Homo sapiens: one gene and its partners. The protein of the gene in region 2 purifies or fractionates together with the protein of the main gene of each other region. This does not show direct contact. Each region holds a gene or a part of one and is shown on either strand. Other genes may lie near its edges. The genes, in order: NRBF2, SEC24D and RSU1.

Region 1 (3,654 bases), on a different chromosome or scaffold from region 2:
CTGTGTTTTATACTGAGTATGATTTGTAAACATGCCCAGAATATTTATAATCTCAGTTGCAAACGTGATTCTGTGAAGTACTTTTATGCAGCATCAAAGGGACATGTCTTTAAAAAGCATCCAAGACAAATCATTTTTCAGCTAACTGACAGAACAGATTTGTTTTTTTTTTGGGACCGAGTCTCACTGTGTTGCCCAGGCTGAAGTGTAATGGTGCGATCTCGGCTCACTGCAACCTCTGCCTCCCGGGTTGAAGCGGCGATTCTCTTGCTTCAGCCTCCCGAGTAGCTGGGATTACAGGCACCCACCATCCTGCTGGGCTAATTTTTGTAGAGACGGGGTTTCACCATGTTAGCCAGACTGGTCTCAAACTCCTGACCTCAGATGATCCACCCGCCTTGGCCTCCGCAAGTGTTGGGATCACAGGCATGAGCCACCATGCCCGATTTTTTTTTTTTTTTTTTTTTGAGACAAGATCTCACTCTGTTGCCCGGACTGGAGTGCAGTGGTGCGATCACAGGTCACTGCAGCCTCCATTACCCAGGCTCAAGTGATTGTCCTACCTCAGCCTCCTCAGTAGCTGGGACTACTACTACAGGTGCGAGCGCCACACCCGGCTAATTTTTGTATTTTTTGTAGAGATGGGTTTTCACCATATTGCCCAGGCTTGTCTCAAACTCTTGAGCTCGAGTGATCTGCCTGCTTTGGCCTCCTAAAGTGCTGGGATTATAGGCATGAGCCACAGCACCCAGCCACTTTTTACCTTTTTTAAGTGATGTAAAAAACACGTGAAGTTTACCTTCTTAATTATTTTTAAGTGTACAGTTTAGTAGTGTTAAGTATATTCGCATGGTTGTGCAACAAATGTCCAGAATTTTTTCATCTTGCAAAACTGAAACTATGCCGTTTGAATACCTACTCCCCATTTCCCCCTCCCCTGTTCAATGATGAGTTGTTCCACCATTCAACTTTCCTGTTTTTAAGAATTTGACTACTTTAGATACCCAATAAGTCGATTTGTATAGTATTTGTCCTTTTATGACTGGCTTATTTTATTCAGTCTAATGTCCTCACAGTTCATCCATGTTGTAGTATGTGTCAGAATTATCTTCCCTTTTTTTTTTTTTTTGAGACACAGTCTCGCTCTGTCACCCAGGCTGGAGTGGAGTGGCGCGATCTCGGCTCACTGCAAGCTCTGCCTTCCGGGTTCACGCTATTCTCCTGCCTCAGCCTCCTGAGTAGCTGGGACAACAGGTGCCCCCCACCACGCCTGGCTAATTTTTTTTGTATTTTTAGTAGAGACGGGGTTTCACCGTGTTAGCCAAGATGGTCTCGATCTCCTGACCTTGTGATTTGCCTGCCTCGGCCTCCAAAAGTGCTAGGATTACAGGCGTGAGCCACCGCGCCCGGCCAGAATTACCTTACTTTTAAAGACAGTACCTTTCCATTGTGTGTGTATACTGCATTTATCCATCTATCTGTTGATGGACATCTGGATTGCTTTCACCTTTTGGCTGTTGTGAATAATGCTGTTATGAATATGGGTGTACAATGCTTTTTGCTTTTTTGTGAAGCTGTGAAGCTTTGCTAAATCGTGTGTGTTTGTTACTGAGGAAAATCGTTACATGAGGTAGAAAACTTTAGCTGATTATCTCTGCCTTTCTCCTTGCTAGTTAAATGTATAATCTTATGTAAGTTACACGACCTCCCCATCAGTCTTTTGGGCCTCCTTATGTAAGAGAGGAAAACACATTAACAAAGTCGTAGTTAAAGCAGCTGAAATAATGTATATTAAAGCTTTTTTTTTTTTTTTTTTTTTTTGAGATGGAGTTTCACTGTTTTCACCCAGGCTGGAGAGCAATGGCATGATCTTGCCTCATTGCAACCTCTGCCTCCCAGGTTCAAGCAGTTCTCCTGCCTCAGCCTCCTGAGTAGCTGGGATTACAGGCGCCCGCAGAGACGGTGTTTCACCCTGTTAGCCAGGATGGTCTCGATCTCCTGACCTCATGATCTGCCCGCCTCGGCCTCCCAAAGTGTTGGGATTACAGGCGTGAGCCACTGCGCCCAGCTAATTTTTGTATTTCTAGTAGAGATGGGGTTTCACCATGTTGGCCAGGCTGGTCTTGAACTCCTGACCTCAGATGATCCGCCTGCCTCAGCCTCCCAAAGTGCTGGGATTACAGCCATGAGCCACTGTGCCTGGACTTAAAGCTCTTTTGAAATTATTAAAGTGTAAGGAGGCCAGTGACTGCTTATTTAATAAGTTTTCCTTCAATTACATTATTTGCTGTTAGAACTTCTGATTTTTTTGACTTTGTTCTTTTGATGAGATATCTTTAAAACAATCTTTGTAATATTAGATGTTGGTATCATGAATTCATCAACTGCAATGTCCAAATTTTTTATTTTAAAAACAAATAGTAACTTTAATGTTGAAAGAATGAGATGATAGAAGAGAAGCTTGGATTTTACTACATGATGAGTGATTTCCTGATTATAGTTTTTAGACTATACAGATTAGTGAAAGTATCTACAAAATAGCTCTTGTTTTGAAAGGAGCTTGTTAAAAATCAAGAAAATAGACATTTTGAATAACAATCTATGATTGTAACTCTTGGTTTATCTCCAAAGAGTGGAAGAATGTGAGTCACTGAAGGAGTTAAGTGCCTGGTGTTAACCTTGAGAGGGCTTATGGTAGAAGTGAAAGAAGTTGCCAGTTCCTTTCAGATGCTGCAGTTCTAGGCTCTACCCATTACATTTCCCCAGCTACAGATAGAGCTGTAATAGTGATTTGATATGTGGCAACAAAACAGTATTATTTATCTTCTTAAAAGGTAGTTGCTTTTTGAAAGAAATCATGTTTTATTTTATGATCCAGAGGAACTTAGGGATGTTTGTCTTCTAGGCTCATCAACAGAGCAGACGAGCAGACCGTTTATTAGCTGCAGGCAAATACGAAGAGGCTATTTCTTGTCACAAAAAGGCTGCAGGTGAGTATTCTTATTAAGTACTCAGTGTAAAACTGAAGAGCAGAAAGTCACAATAGTAATAATGTGTGTTGCTTTTCATATGCAAGACTGATACTGCTGACCCACCAGAATATCAGCTTTGATTATTTTTCAAGTAAGTGTGTTGGATTTCCCAGCTCCTGCTAATCCAATCTTCTTTCTAAATCATGAAGATGGCATAAATGTGGTAAACAGTTCCTGGATACAGCTCTCTGAGCCCAAAGATCCCTAAAAACAGGAGCTGATTGTAACAAGTCTGCCATTTTATCTTAGTTATTATAAAAAGGAGTTTGGGTTTCAAATAGTTGGCCATTTCAGGTTCTAAAAATAGTAATTCAATTCAATTCCAACCAATTCATTTTCACTGAGCTTCTGTTTTCTAACATGCTGATAATGCAAAACTTACTATAAGACTTTTGTTACCTAAAATGTGGGAGATTTTTCCTGTGGTCTTTTTTTTAGCTTCCCTTCTGAATATCTCATCTCTACATGCATGCCTGTAGTAACATGCTGATGTTAGCTTTCATTTCAGTATGAATTTTAGAATTGTTAGCTTCTTATCAAAGACCTAATTTTACCCTAGTCAGTCAAGCAACCTAGCATATGTTGAATTCAGAAATAGATCTTGGGGGCCTGTTTTGCTTAG
Region 2 (3,654 bases):
GTGTGGTGGGTGGTGGTGGAAGAACTTGAGATCCAGGCTGCAAAATGGAAGGCTGTGGAGGTCGTGGAGGAGTCTGCAATGATGTGGCTGACAGAGGGCCAGGGGGTCCCTGGCTTGGAGGAGCCATGCCTGAACCTGTGTGAGAAAGGAGACCAGCCCACTTAAATACCACATTTCTCAACTCTCTGACTTCTGCAAAGTACATGACAGAGATGTTTGTTTTCCTGACATAAAGCAAGAGGACACCCTTAGAAACACATGTTTGGGTTTTTTGCCACAAATTGAAATCTTCATTCAGAAAATAGAACAAACGCTATTTTATACAACTGGGATTTTTTCTTTTTTTTAAGGACAGGGTCTTGCTCTGTCACTGAGGCTGCAATACAATGGCAAGATAATGGACCACTGTAGCCTCAACATCCTGGGCTCCAGTGATCCTCCCACCTCAGCCTCCCAAGTAACTGAGACTACAGGCACACACCACCACGCCAAGTTCATTTTTTTTTTTTTTTTTTTTTGTAGAGTTGGGGTCTCGTGATATTGCTCAGGCTGGTCTCAAACTCCTGGGCTCAAGCAATACTTCCTCCTTGGCATCCCAAAGTGCTGGGATTATAGGTGTGAGCCACCATGCCTGGCCTGGAAAATTTTTAAAAGGTAAAAGCAACATTTATAATTTAAGTAAGGGAATTCATAGAATAAATTTTAACTCAGTTGTGTAATTACATGATATATGCATTAATTAAAGCATCTGTATCTGGTACAAATCTAGAAAATCATATAAAAATTCTATTACATAACAAGCATTACTCAGGTAAATTGCACATTCAATAAATTATTTGCATCCTGTGCGTGACTTGACCAAACAAATTTCAGAATTAGGTAGAAATAACCAGAGACAAGAGAAGGGCCACCAACATGCTCTCCAATCATATTGGAAATAGCTGTAAAACCAGATTATGTTTTCCTTTCTCTGATTATGGGAAACTGGGTTGCTTCTTTGGAGACTTATCCATTTTGAAATGAGTAAAAGACAGAAAATAGAGGGGTTTTAATGATACTTCAGAAAACTAATTTTAAGTAACATGGAAACATTCTTCATCTAGATAAATGGCCGACTGTGCTGTCATTACAGTGGAGCTTTCCATGACTCACAGGATATACAGCATTTCTGTTGATGTAAATCTCAGTACTGTGACTCTTTCCTCTCCTATCTTCTCTTTTCTGCCTCACAACATCTGAGCTTCCACTCTTTCCATGATCTAAACACATAATTAAAATGCACTGTGAAACAATGAGTACTATATTTCTGATTTGGGGGCCCCATCATAAACAATACAAGGTTTAAATTATCCTTATTTATTTCTTAAAATAATTTCACTATTCTAATGTTTATTTGTGAAATCAGCATTTTTTGTCTTTTCTTATTGTTCAATCATTGAATGGAAGGTATTCTGAGGGTCCTTCAATTACCTTGAAATAAGTGGCAGCATGATCAAGAAAACAATTAACTATAGCCATACATAAGATAGATGCTTTATTATTAAAAATGTCCAAATACTACTTCAACACAGTATGCCCTAGTTACATCTATTTTAAAAATGAAGAAAACCTCTCTCATTAAAAATGACCAGGACACAAGGCAGTCAATAAACACTAATAATAAAACTATTACCATAGCTGTTGATTTGCATAGCACTGAGCTGGCTGCCCAGCTGGGTGACAGATGAAGTGGATATAGGACCTGGATAAGAAGATTGTGCAGAGGGTTGGTATGGTGCATGTGAGGATGCCACATTGTTGACAGGTGGAGGGCCTGGAAATCTGAGAGAGGAAAACAGGATGTCAAACAATATCACAGCGTCTCAAGCAAATGGCGTACAATAATGTTAATAGCTTGTAAAATTAAATTAAGCCTGTCTAGTAGGCCTAGGAAAATGACTGATATTATATACTAAATCTTTAATTAAGCTTGACATGAACTCAATATGATCATGTAGCATCATCTTATATTTATGCTCACATGCTGAACATGCCAAGACAGAAAAAAAAAATCCTAATGTGAGCATAAAACCAGTTCTGGAAATCAATTTGGGAAACTGAGCCAACCAGAGCCTTATCTATACTAAAGTTAATCATCAACAGAATGAAAATCAAGAAAACAATACAGCCAGGAGCAGCGGCTCATGCCTATTATCCTAGCACTTTGGGAGGCTGAGGTGGGAGGACAATTTGAGCCCAGGAATTCAAGACCAGCCTGGGCAACATAGTGAGACCCCCTTCTCTACAAAAAATAAAACAAAATAAAATAAAAAATTAGCCAGGAGTGGTGGCGCTACTTGGGCGGTTGAAGTAAGATGATCACTTGAGTCCAGGAGGTCAAGACTACAGTGAGCTGAGACTGCACCACTGCACTCTAGCCTGGGCAACAGAGCCAGACCCTGTCCCAAAGAGAAAAAAAAAAAATCTAAAAATTACATCATGCTTTACCTTTGATTTAGCTTGAACTTATTAGACGTTTATTTTTTCTTGTTCTGCATTAAACAATGGCCGCTATCTGGACAATGTGCCTAGCATGGTTAATCTGCCAAATGCGATTAAAGCCTGCCTGAGAGTCACATTATAAATTCTTATGAATTTTAAATTTTAAATTAAGTTTTCCCAAATGGTATACTCTGATTTCAATTTCTCTATCTGAAAACTGGAAACTATTTCCCCATGGCCCATGTCTTGCCTTCTGCCCCCTACTGCCATTGAGAGGTTAGGAGCAGAGCCTGAGGGAAGCCAGTGCTTGCCTGAAGTCCCACAATTTATTTGTGACAACACTAGGACCAGCGTTTTTCCAGGTCTTCAGTGAGTGCACTATTCAAAGCATCACACTAATTTTATCTTGTCATTTTTCTCCATATGTTTAAATTGAATAATTATTATAAACAAAACAGAAAATTAACCTTCCAACCATTACTCTGAGTGCATGACATTAAGCATATTTGCAGAATAGTATCTCACACTTTGAGATAAATAGGTGAGTGATGAAAATGCTCTTTTCCACTCATACCTCTGAACAGCTTATTTCTGCAGTCTATGTTTTATCGGTAGCCGGAATTGACTTTATAATTTAGGACTCTTCTGTAATGATACAGAAAGGCTGCCTAATAAAATACATGTTGCAAGAAAAAAAAAAAAGAAAATGGTCTTTCCATTCTTTCCATTGTACGCACAAGTACAAGCTATCCTATAGCAGAAAATTGGCTAGAAATAATGGAATGAATAACATTGTAACCCAAAAATACTGTTAAACAAAACTATCCAATTTCTCTCCTGTCAAACTTTTCAAAAAGCCCAACACAGTTAGGCTAAGCACCCTTTGACTTAAATACTTTTTGGAAGAAAATGAATAAAAGATAGAAAATACAAACATTAACTTTTCACAGTAAAAGTTTTCTTTATATCTCTAATCAATTAATGACACTGGTGAAACACAAGCACAAAAAATATAATTCTAGTCCTGCATGACACATTTAAAATATGTTGTGATCACTAAAAAATGATTTCAAGAATTACATTAAAGGTCTGTTTTGTAAATCCATTGTTTCCTAAGACGAAAACATTTCTTCTTTTTAAGAAATAATACTTTTTCGTCTTTTAAAAAAACTT
Region 3 (3,654 bases), on a different chromosome or scaffold from region 2:
CACTTCTCTTAATTTTGAACAAGTCATTTTTGTCTCTGCAGCAAATACCTCCTTCCCTCTGCTCTGCTTTCCTTTTCCATCTGTCTTCTTTCTTCCTTCCTTTGTTCTTAATTTCTGGGGCCAAGGTACTGTCATGACTGTGTACCTGTGATGACTTGGGTTAAGAAATTTAAAAGACATCAAATGATCCAAGAGGCACTTAGGGTTTGATTTAGGGTACTTAGGCTGTGATTACTGAGAAGGACTTCTTAGACCTGATCTGTATTGGATGAAGTGACCTTCACTTTTTTTTTCCCCCCCCCCAGGAAACTTGGATTTAACTGGCCAGAAGCAGGTATTCAAAGCAGAGAACAATCCCTGGGTGACCCCCATTGCAGACCAGTTCCAGCTTGGCGTGTCCCATGTTTTTGAGTATATCCGTTCTGAGACATACAAATAGTAAGTAGACTCTGATTTTCTGAAATAGTAGACTGTGATTTTATAGTATTTATAATTACGCCTTTAAAAATATTATGTGACAGTATCCTATTGATGGCAGTTAGCACTTAGCATTTTAAGATGTTTTATTAAAAACTGCATGTCGGCCAGGTGTGGTGTGGCTCACAGCTGTAATCCTAGCATTTGGGGAAGTCGAGACTAGAGGATTGCTTGAGCCCAGGAGTTTGAGACCAGCCTGGGCAACATAGCAAGACCCCGTCTCTACAAAAGAAAAAGAAAAAGAAATTATCCAGGCATGGTAGTGCATGCTTGTCATTGTAGCTATTCTGGAGGCTGAGTTGGGAGGATCACTTGAGCCCAGGACATTGAGGCTGCACAGAGTCGTGGTCATGCCCTGCACTCGAGCCTGGATGAGAGAGCACGACCCTTTCTCAAAAGAAAAAAACAAGAAAAAACAGCATGTGGTCATTGTCTCTATTTGTAAATTGTTTTTTATTGATATTTTCAAGGGGATTTTTACTGATTTTCTTTAGAGAATTTTTGAGGTATTAAATTAGTTGAATATTCATGGCACTAAGGAAATTCACCATTCAGATCAGAACATATTTTTTTTCTTCTGTGAATGCAAAGAATTACAAGTGTTCTGAACAAAATTGTTAAGCAGTTTATTTATAAAATCAGTAGAGAGTACTAGCAATGCGTCATTCTATTATAGAGAAGCTTGTACTGTAGTGAGATGATAATCTCTTAGAGAAAAGGGGAAGGCAGGAGAGGAAGCGGAATCTGCCAGCTTAAAGTCACAGCATCCAAATACCTCAAGTCCTCACTCCAGGTGAAAGGAGTCTATGCAAAACTGTCCCAAAAACCTCACGATTCCTGCTTCTTTCTTCCTCCATGTGTCAAGGTTGAAAGGAATTCTGCCACTTCCACGTGCTTCTGTTGTTATATGTACCGTCATTATTTTCCTACCTTATCCCAGCCCCCAGCTGCAAAACAAACTGTCATTTATCAAATACTTGCCTGACCCCAAATGCTGAGATCTAGTATAATTTTAAGCATATACAAAAAAGACAAAAACATCCCTACTCAAATGTAATCTGTTTTTGTGTCTGACATCAACTTTTAAAATTTATTTTTTAATTAATTAATTAATTTTTTTTAAGAGACAGGGTCTCACTGTATTGCTGGGCTGGAGTGCAGTGGCACAATCACGGCTCACTGCAGCCTCAAGCGCCTGGGCTGAGGCAATCCTTCCATTTCAGCCTTCCAAGTAGCTGGGACTACAGGAGCACACCACCATGCCCAGCTAATTTTTTTAATTTTTTGCAGAGACGGGGTCTCCCTTTGTTGCCCAGGCTGGTCTCAAACTCCTGGTGTCAAGCAATCCTGCTTTCATCTTCCAAAGTGCTGGGATTACAGTCATGAGCCACCATGCCCAGCCTGGCACCAACTTTTGAGAATCTAACATCCCAACTATTGGAAGAAAGCTAGAAGATTGCTAAAGGTCACATTTAGTTAAGAGTTTCTTTTCTTTTTTTTTTTTTTGGTATCAGAAATATGTCCCACACTCAAGAAAACCCTGTGAATCTGTGCCAGGCCAGTGGGTCGGGATTGATTGGCAGGGCAGAGCCTCTGCCCAGAAGTGGCTGGCTGCATTTCTGCAGTCTTGCAGCCTGAGCGCCATGCTCCTGGTCAAACATTTAGCACTTGCTGTGGCCATGTTTCCACCAGACAGAAACAGAGAAGACAAGCTGTAAAGAATAATGGCCAGCCGGAGCATGGTGGCTCACGCCTGCAACCCCAACACTTTGGGAAGGCAAGGCGGGTGGATCACTTGAGGTCAGGAGTTTGAGATCAGCCTGGCCAACATGGTGAAACTAAAAACACAAAAATTAGCTGGGCATGGTGGAGGGGCACCTGTAATCCTAGCTATTCAGGAGGCTGAGGCACAAGAATCGCTTGAGCCAGGGAGGCAGAGGTTGCAGTGAGCTGAGATCGTGCCACTGCACTCCAGCCTGGGCGACAGAGCAATATTCCATCCCAAAAAAAAGAAAAAAGAACAATGGCCTTAAAATGAAATACACTAAAATTGCCAAAATGATACCGTATCCTCCTATATAAAAGCAATGTAAAGCGTGGTTTAGATTACTTTAGACAATACTATGACACTTACAGTATAAGTCTAAAGACTTACCTTAAGGATAAAATGAGATAGGTATAGGATGTGTATTAATTGTTTCATAAGCCATATAGATATGTACAGTTATTACAGATTCAATTTTTTTTAAAAAAATACGAATGTAGCTCACCCTTAGAAATTAGTTAATTATGAAAATGTGTGAAAATATAGTCACAAATTAGCAGATGATTGTTTATCTTCTTCTTTGTAAATTGTTAATCATTGCTATCGTGAGTTTTAGATGGGGCTCTAATTTTTTCTTAGTAAACAGGAAGCTATTTAGAGCTTGGTTTGTATGGTATCTTGAAAAAAGTCATTCTGTATATGATAGTATACAGAAAAATGCATGAACAAACTCCTAGCCATCTGGAATTAGAGGAAATTCTCTGTTTATTATTCTGGTTAACAATTTTTAGTTTTCCATAGATCACTTTATAATTTATAGAGGATGAGAATACATTGCATATGAAAGTGCTTTTAATTTTAAAAGATTAAATTGTGAGTTTCTGGATTTTGTATTACCTCAAAGTAATTATTAGGCAATTAATCACCATTCTGCACTGTTACAGACTATTTTAACTGATTTGAATGTGGTTAGGATTCTGGATAAATGAGAGGTATCTATAACATAATTGGTATATCTGTTTTTATGTCTGTTATTAGCATCCTATTTTGGGGGGTTGGCGTAGTCTAAGCAATGTGTCTGCTAACTTTTTCTGTTTCATTTCCTCATGGAGCCTTGGATTACCTTTTATGCAGTTAAGTCAACATTAAAAAGTTTCAGTAGGCTGGGTGCGGTGGCTCACGCCTATGATCCCAGCACTTTGGGGTGAATTGTGGGGTGATTCACCATGAGGAGGGTGAATCACTTGAGGCCAGGAGTTCAAGACCAGCCTTTCCAACATGGTGAAACCCCATTTCTACTCAAAATACAAAAATTAGCCGAGTGTGGTGGTGGGTGCCTGTAATCCCAGCTACTTGGGAGGCTGAGGCAGGAGAATCGCTTGAACCTGAGAGGTGGAGGTTGCAGTGAGTTG

The links.
Region 1: the proteins of SEC24D (region 2) and NRBF2 purify together in Homo sapiens (affinity purification with mass spectrometry; one large-scale study listed by BioGRID and IntAct). This does not show direct contact.
Region 3: the proteins of SEC24D (region 2) and RSU1 fractionate together in Homo sapiens (co-fractionation; one large-scale study listed by BioGRID). This does not show direct contact.

What each region holds. Positions count from the first base shown.
Region 1 is NC_000010.11:63,143,304-63,146,957, forward strand, and holds part of NRBF2 (nuclear receptor-binding factor 2), read left to right. Parts: intron 1-2,905; coding exon 2,906-2,990; intron 2,991-3,654. UniProt on the Homo sapiens protein: May modulate transcriptional activation by target nuclear receptors. Can act as transcriptional activator (in vitro). Involved in starvation-induced autophagy probably by its association with PI3K complex I (PI3KC3-C1).
Region 2 is NC_000004.12:118,815,592-118,819,245, forward strand, and holds part of SEC24D (protein transport protein Sec24D), read right to left. Parts: intron 1,822-3,654; coding exon 1,673-1,821; intron 136-1,672; coding exon 1-135. UniProt on the Homo sapiens protein: Component of the coat protein complex II (COPII) which promotes the formation of transport vesicles from the endoplasmic reticulum (ER).
Region 3 is NC_000010.11:16,691,807-16,695,460, reverse strand, and holds part of RSU1 (ras suppressor protein 1), read left to right. Parts: intron 1-305; coding exon 306-438; intron 439-3,654. UniProt on the Homo sapiens protein: Potentially plays a role in the Ras signal transduction pathway. Capable of suppressing v-Ras transformation in vitro.